Homo sapiens: one gene and its partner. The protein of the gene in region 1 purifies or fractionates together with the protein of each later gene. This does not show direct contact. Each region holds a gene or a part of one and is shown on either strand. Other genes may lie near its edges.

Region 1 (3,653 bases):
GAGTGCAGTGCCACGAACACAAACCACTGCAGCCTTAAACTCCTGGAATCAAGTGATCCTCCCGTCTCAGCCTCCCACCATCTGGAACCACAAGTGTACCACCACACCCACCTAATTTTTTCTTTTCTTTGTAGAGATGGAGTCTTACTTTGTTGCTGAAGGTGGTCTTGAACTCCTGGGCTCAAGCAATCCTCCTGCCTTACCCTCCCAAAGTGCTGGGATTACTCCTCCCAAAGTACTGACCACCATGCCTGGCCAAGAGTTCAATCTCATTAAAGGAAGGTATGAAAGTATACATTCAAAGGAAGAAAATAACCAGTTAACACTTTGGTCTTCCTCGGGGTAGTGAATCACAAATTTTCCTTCTTTATATTTCTGAATTTTCCTAGCTTTTTTTTTTTAACTGAATAGTTTAATAATCAGCAAAAAAGACGTATCATTTTAAATAAAAGGTAGTGGGCCAGGCGTGGTGGTTCACGCCTGTAATCCCAGCACCTTGGGAGGCCAAGGCGGGCGGATCACAGGGTCAAGGGATTGAGACCATCCTGGCCAACATGGTGAAACCCCATCTATACTAAAAATACAAAAATTAGCTGGGCATGGTGACGTGCACCTGTAGCCCCAGCTACTCAGGAGGCTGAGGCAGGAGAATTGCTTGAACCCGAGAGGCGGAGGTTGCAGTGAGCCGAGATCATGCTACTGCACTCCAGCCTGGCGACAGAGCTTGACTCTGTCTCAGAGAGAGAAAAAAAAAAAAGGTAGTGGAAGAAAGAGACACTTTTTTTTTTTTTTGAGATGGAATCTTGCTCTGTCGCCAGGCTGGAGTGCAATGGCACGATCCCGGCTCACTGCAAGCTCCGCCTCCCCAGTTCAAGCGATTCTACTACCTCAGCCTCCTGAATAGCTGGGACTACAGTGCATGCCACTATGCCCAGCTAATTTTTATATTTTTAGTATAGACGGGGTTTCACCACGTTGGCCAGGATGGTCTCTATCTCTTGACCCTGTGATCCACCCTCCTCGGCCTCCCAAAGTGCTGGGATTACAGGTGTGAGCCATCGCCCCCGGCCGAAAGATACACTTTTACAAGGGGTGAAATGTCGTGGTCTTTAGGGCACTAGCATATAATGGAAAGGCAGGATGGTACATCAGAAAGAGCACTGAACTGAGTTAGCAGACCTAGACTGACATTCCAGCTGAGCCACCTGAGCATACAGCCTCAGCTATTTCAGGCAGATACACACAACAGTTGTGAGCACCAAATGAAATCACATGTAAACTACAAATACCACAGAAACATTAAAAAGCATTTAAAGGCAAATGTGTAGGAAGGTTTCTACAAAATGTTATCGCTTTTTTAACAACCATTAACATGGTGCAGGTCAGAGGATTTAAGAGTGGGTTTTAAATGACCCGCAGTTATCTCAGGGATCCTCATATCTGTAAGTGAACAGAAGAACTGTTGGTAGGCTGACTGAATACCACATATAAGGGACACTATTTTTCATAAAGTCTATGCTTGGTTATTTAAGGTTAATTCATAGCAGCTTTGTAATTATGCACTCTCAAATAACTCAAACTACAAAGCTTATTCAATGGAAACCAACTTTTTATTACACTTACATACCAATATTGGAAATCAATGATGTAACTATTTACTTCACTAAGTAACTTTTAAAGGACTCCTGATCTGAGATGGTTAATGCCCAGCAGTATGAAGCAAAGCTGGAAAGGAAAGGCTGAGGGAGAAGAGAGAACTTCCTTTCCTTTATCTGGCAGCAGCCACACAAGAAGGACCAACTAAGAGACAAGCAAGGCTGGAGAATTCCTAAACTGCCCTTGTCCCAGGCTCCCCTTAAATAGGCTCCCTTGGATTTGCTTGGTCCCAACTGTAGACAGTCCCAGGACACCAGAAGTGGACAACAGAATCAGGCAAACTTAAATTTCTCAGCAGTGATGCCATCACCAAAACAGAGACTCCAGGCCCCATGAGTTAAGTACTGCATCTTCAAGCAAATGAACAAGGCCAATGCTGTAGGTCAGCATTGGAACCAACTCCCAAGCTTTCTTCCTCCCACAAGGAGATATTTTGCAAGTAGCTATTCTTAAATATGTTTTTGTAATCACAGCCTGGGATACTAAAATTGAAACTGGTAACAGACACTGCTAAAAAACTTGTTTTGATTTCACTCGCCACATCACTTTTACCTCTGATTCACAAATCGCAGTGACCACCACCATTAAGAAATGTTTTAAAAATAAGTTTTAGGCTGGGCATGGTGGCTCACGCCTGTAATTCCAGCACTTTGGGAGGCCGAGGCGGGTGGATCACGAGGTCAGGAGATCAAGACCAATCTGGCTAACACGGTGAAACCCCGTCTCTACTAAAAATACAAAAATTAGCCGGGCGTGGTGGTGGGTGCCTGTAGTCCCAGCTACTCGGGAGGCTGAGGCAGGAGAATGGCATGAATCTGGAAGGTGGAGCTTGCAGTGAGCTGAGATGGCACCACTGCACTCCAGCCTGGGCTACAAAGCAAGATTCCGTCTAAAAAAAAAAAAAAAGTTTTAAAACACAAACTATTTTTCTGTCTTTAATGCCATATGGAGTGTGGGGAAAAACAGAATAGAAGATTTAAGAGCAAATAACTGAAAAGATCAGCATATTGCAAAAATGTTTCTGCAGCAAACTGCAGACAGAGAAGCATAGAGAACTATTAGATAATATTAACAGATAAGCATGTGGTAACACAAAGGAATGGATGCCTGAGAATACAATGGTAGCCTTCCTTACATGAGAGGTAAGAATCATCAACAGCAAGCCAATAGCCAAAAAATAAGGGGGGAGGCGGGGAGTTCATTTCTCGAGTTTCAGTCGCCTTCAGAAGAAGACATTTAATGCCAAGGGGAACCTCTGTTTAGCCTTATTCAGGAGGACTTCTAATCCTTACCTCCCCAGGAAAAGCCTGCCTACAGCTCCAAGTCCAACATCTGGTCAAATCTATCTCAGCTGTATTTGTTGAATTAAATGAATGGGGAGATAAATACTTTATCATAGGAAAAACTAAAATATTTGTGTCAAATGCCAGAGAGGAATGTGCATAAGACAACTGTCATATTTGCGTGGTCTGTGTTTGCTACATCTTTGTTTACAAAGTCTAATGCCAAAGTAAGAGCAAAAACGTTATTAGTGAAGATCCCTTTGAAGACTTTTTTTTTTTTTTTTTTTGAGAAGAAGTCTCGCTCTGTCGCCCAGGCTGGAGTGCAGCGGCATGATCTCTGCTCACTGCAAGCCCTGCCTCCTGGGTTCACGCCATTCTCCTGCCTCAGCCTCACGAGTAGCTGGGACTACAGGCGCCCGCCACCACGCCCGGCTAATTTTTTGTATTTTTAGTAGAGATGGGGTTTCACTGTGTTAGCCAGGATGGTCTCGATCTCCTGACCTCATGATCCACCTGCCTCGGCCTCCCAAAGTGCTGGGATTACAGGCGTGAGCCACCGTGCCCAGCTGAAGACATATTAAAAGCTAATCAAATAACCAAAATTTTTTGGCTTCACTTGGCAGTGGGGTCAGAAAACTGATTCAAAGCCACACTTTACTATAAAGAGTTGTTCTCTGATTACAGGGTTGGTGAGCTTAGACACAGTTGGCACTA
Region 2 (3,653 bases), on another chromosome or scaffold:
AATTTGATTTGGTCAATCATGGTCTTTTGAATAACATTTGCAACTACATTTATGAAATCTTAAGTTTTCAGTGGAAGCCCTTTCTGTATATTTATGTATATTATTTGTATATTCCAGTAAGTTTTAAATTTGTTTAATTATTTTGAGTGCATTATCATAAAAGAAGCATAATGAGAATACAGACTGCATTTAAGAAATGGCAAGAGTGACTCTAGAAAGTTTTCAGTATTTTGCTTTGTAGGAAAAATTTTCATGATAAATTTACTTAATTAGGATTAGGCATTATGAGATATTTCATGTTTTAGATAAGATATTATTACTATAATTCTGTTTCTCCATATGTCATAATATTATTTCATCTTGTCATTTCATCTTCATACATAATGTGTTTTTTGTTTAAATAACACTCTGAAACTAGGTGAAGTAATCCTCATGTTTTTATTTCTTATAGATCACTTTTTAATTCGGGCCTCTGCAGCATTAGAAAAATTGAAACTCCTGTGTGGAGAAGAGAAAGAATGTTCAAATCCATCAAATCTTCTAGAACTTTACACACAGGTACTGAAAGAGTGGTGGACTCTGGCATTTTATGAGGGCAGGTTGTTTATTTAGATGATTGACTCCAACTTTAGGTAAAATGAAATCAGTTTATTCTATATTTCAAGTGTTTAATTTTGTCCAAAAAACTATGAATAAAACACAAAAACTTAAAACTTTGAGGTAGTATGAAAAGAAGTAAGATTTATTAGATGTGTTAATAAGAAAAGTCAGGAAGAAAATCTTACAGATAACGGAATTGTTTTCCTTTAGAGATAATTGAACAGGACACTAGTGTGTGCAATGTCCAATCTCTTGAAAGTTTCAGAGGGAGCAGGGGAGTATATAAGGGCCCTGACTTTTTTTTTTTCCCCTGAAATTTACCTTCCCTAGGATTCTCAATATTATTCTCCCTGCTAGTGTCATGCATATCTATGTGATTTTTCTATTCACCCACTTTTTTTTTTAACTTTCCTTTCCAAATCAGGCTGCTGTGTGGACAACACCTTTTTTTCTTGGTTTTCTGAAACACTGCTGAGGCATGCTAACATCAAGAAATGTAATTTTATTATGGTAACTAACATCTATATAGCACTTTGTAGTTGATAGAGTGTTTTCATGTGCCCTTTTTGGATTGCTAAGGGATAATAAAACTGAAGTGGTTACAGAAAGTACAGTACACTTAGTTAGGCTTCCAAAGTGCCCATTTATAGCATTTAAATGCTTGGTGCTGTTCTTCCTGTTAGGAAATTTCTAAAGATAGCTTCTGCCTTCAAACACCATGGATGAGTAAGCCTAACAGCTACTCACAAACCACAGAGAACTGTTTTAAGTTTGGCAGGTATTTTGCTTGGTTTTCTTTCTGTTCAGAAGACTCTGTGCTTGTCTGTATGTGTTTTATGTCATCTCATTTTTTTCACGAGAGTGTTCCAGACATTTTAACTTACTGGAATAAGGCAAAAGACCTAGAGATACAGATTTCAATTTTAAGATCCTCTTAAACCCTATTGATGGTTCTGAATCAACAGATCACCTTTCATATGATGATGAAATCATATATGATGATCTCTCCTTACTGGCTTAGGCCTTTCGCACGATAACATTTACTCCTCATGTTCACAGAAAGTAAAGCACTAACTGGGTGCTAGGTAACGTTTCTAGTACCTTACATATGTTAATTAATTTTTTACTCCAACAAGGAACTTTGAAAGGTATTTTAGTCCAATTTATCATTTAGCCAATTAAGAAACTGAGGCTCAAAAAAGGTAAAATTGACTTGTCTTTGGTTAGTTAAGTGATTAGTGGTAGAACTGACCCTAGAACCCAGTTTCCTTAGTCTTAGTTCAATAGATTAAAAAAGGAAAAAGGATTGGGGAGTTTTAATATGCTTTAACAGCATCTCTAATAATTAGGAATACTGGGGGCTTAGTGTTTGAGTTGCATATGTTGATGGTATGCTTCCTCTATTGGGTGGCAGGATACATACGCCCCTCACGCTGGCTCTGTATTTGGGAACACAAATCCTTTGAAGGTTCAAAACTGGAAGTAGTGACCTTAACTTGATACAGCAGGCATTTAGAAAATTTTCAGGGGTTATATAAGTAGTAGAATATAATAATTACCTTTTTCATAATTATATATGATTAAATTCTGTAAATTAAAACAAAGCTCTATTTTCTTTTTTGAGGGAAAGAAAGATTATCATTAATTCAGCACTTTAGTGAAATACCTATGAAGTTTTCTTTAAAATCTTTCTCAAATTATATTTACATCTAGACATTTTGCCTACTTCTCAAATTTACATACTGAGCTAGAAGATTTAAATGTGTAATAAAGCACCTATGTGTGCAAGGTTAGACTGTAAGAATTGTTTTTTTTCAATTTTAAGTCATTGATAGATATCTTTCTTTTTTTTTTTTTTTAGGCTATTTTGGACATGACATATTTTGAGGAGAACAAGCTAGTAGATGAAGATTTTCCTGAAGACTCTTCTTCACAGAAAGTAAAAGAGCTGATTAGTTTTCTTTCAGAACCAGAAATTTTAGTAAAGGAAAATAATATGCATCCAAAAGTAAGTTTTACATTCCTGTTAATTATGATGGAATATTGCTGGTACTTGCTGTCCTGCTTTTTGGAGTCTATATTTTTTTCTTCTTGATTGTATCTTTGTTTCTTAAATTAAGATTGGAAGAGGGAGATAAAAGAGCTTAACACTTCAGACCAATGTTGCAACAAAAGTATCATATTTTACTAAATGTATTTCAGAATATTTGCATAATAGAATTGTAATAGCTGTGCCTAATCATTTTTTTTAATATAGATATTCCCATTTCGACCCCCTTTACTTTTGCAGATGCTGTTTTCTTGAAGGTCACTATTAATCTAATTACCACGTCTGTTCTTACAGTCCTTATTCTCTCGAACATTTGCTCCCCTTCTTAATGTTGATCACCCCCTCCCTCTGAGACCCTGCATGCTTCTTTTCCACTTCTTCATCTCTGAAATGTCTTCTCTTGCTAGCAACTGTTCTGCCTTCCATTCTAGAAACACAGGTACTAGCCAGGGATGTCTCTTTCATCACCGATAGTCTCTATTCTGTCTTTGCTTGATAACCTGTTCACAGGCTTTGTACTGTCATCTCTATTTGGATAATCCTATGATTTGTATATCTAGTCCTGGATACTCTTTGAAGCAAATAATTTCTCATCTTTAACTGCCTGCTGACTGTTTACTTAGATATATTTTTTTTCTCTATTTATTTATCAGGGGAGGCTGTGGAAACATCTCCAAATTTCAATGACAAGCCACTTTAAAAATTTTGATTTATTAAAATTATTTTTGGGTGTAAATTTTCATTATTTTATTCCAGCGGTAGTAGAAATAGATATGATCTCACTTCAAGTAATGTATTTGTGAAAAGTTACCTTTTTAATGAGATGATGACTGCTTATATTGCAAACCTGTTAGGGGAATTTGCTAGTAAAAATATTTTTTAAATTATTTTGTAAAACTACTAGTAAATTGAAGTTATTTTAATTTTCATGTATTAATAGAATTGCATATTTATAATTGATTGAAAATAAGGCCTCCCTGTGTAAGCAGCTAAACAAAGGGAA

Evidence for each region.
Region 2: the proteins of RAB7A (region 1) and RIMOC1 purify together in Homo sapiens (affinity purification with western blotting; 2 studies listed by BioGRID, with this or other methods). This does not show direct contact.

The regions. Positions count from the first base shown.
Region 1 is NC_000003.12:128,729,143-128,732,795, reverse strand, and holds part of RAB7A (ras-related protein Rab-7a), read right to left. Parts: intron 1-3,653.
Region 2 is NC_000005.10:41,907,285-41,910,937, forward strand, and holds part of RIMOC1 (RAB7A-interacting MON1-CCZ1 complex subunit 1), read left to right. Parts: intron 1-451; coding exon 452-558; intron 559-2,461; coding exon 2,462-2,608; intron 2,609-3,653. UniProt on the Homo sapiens protein: Plays an important role in the removal of damaged mitochondria via mitophagy by controlling the stability and localization of RAB7A.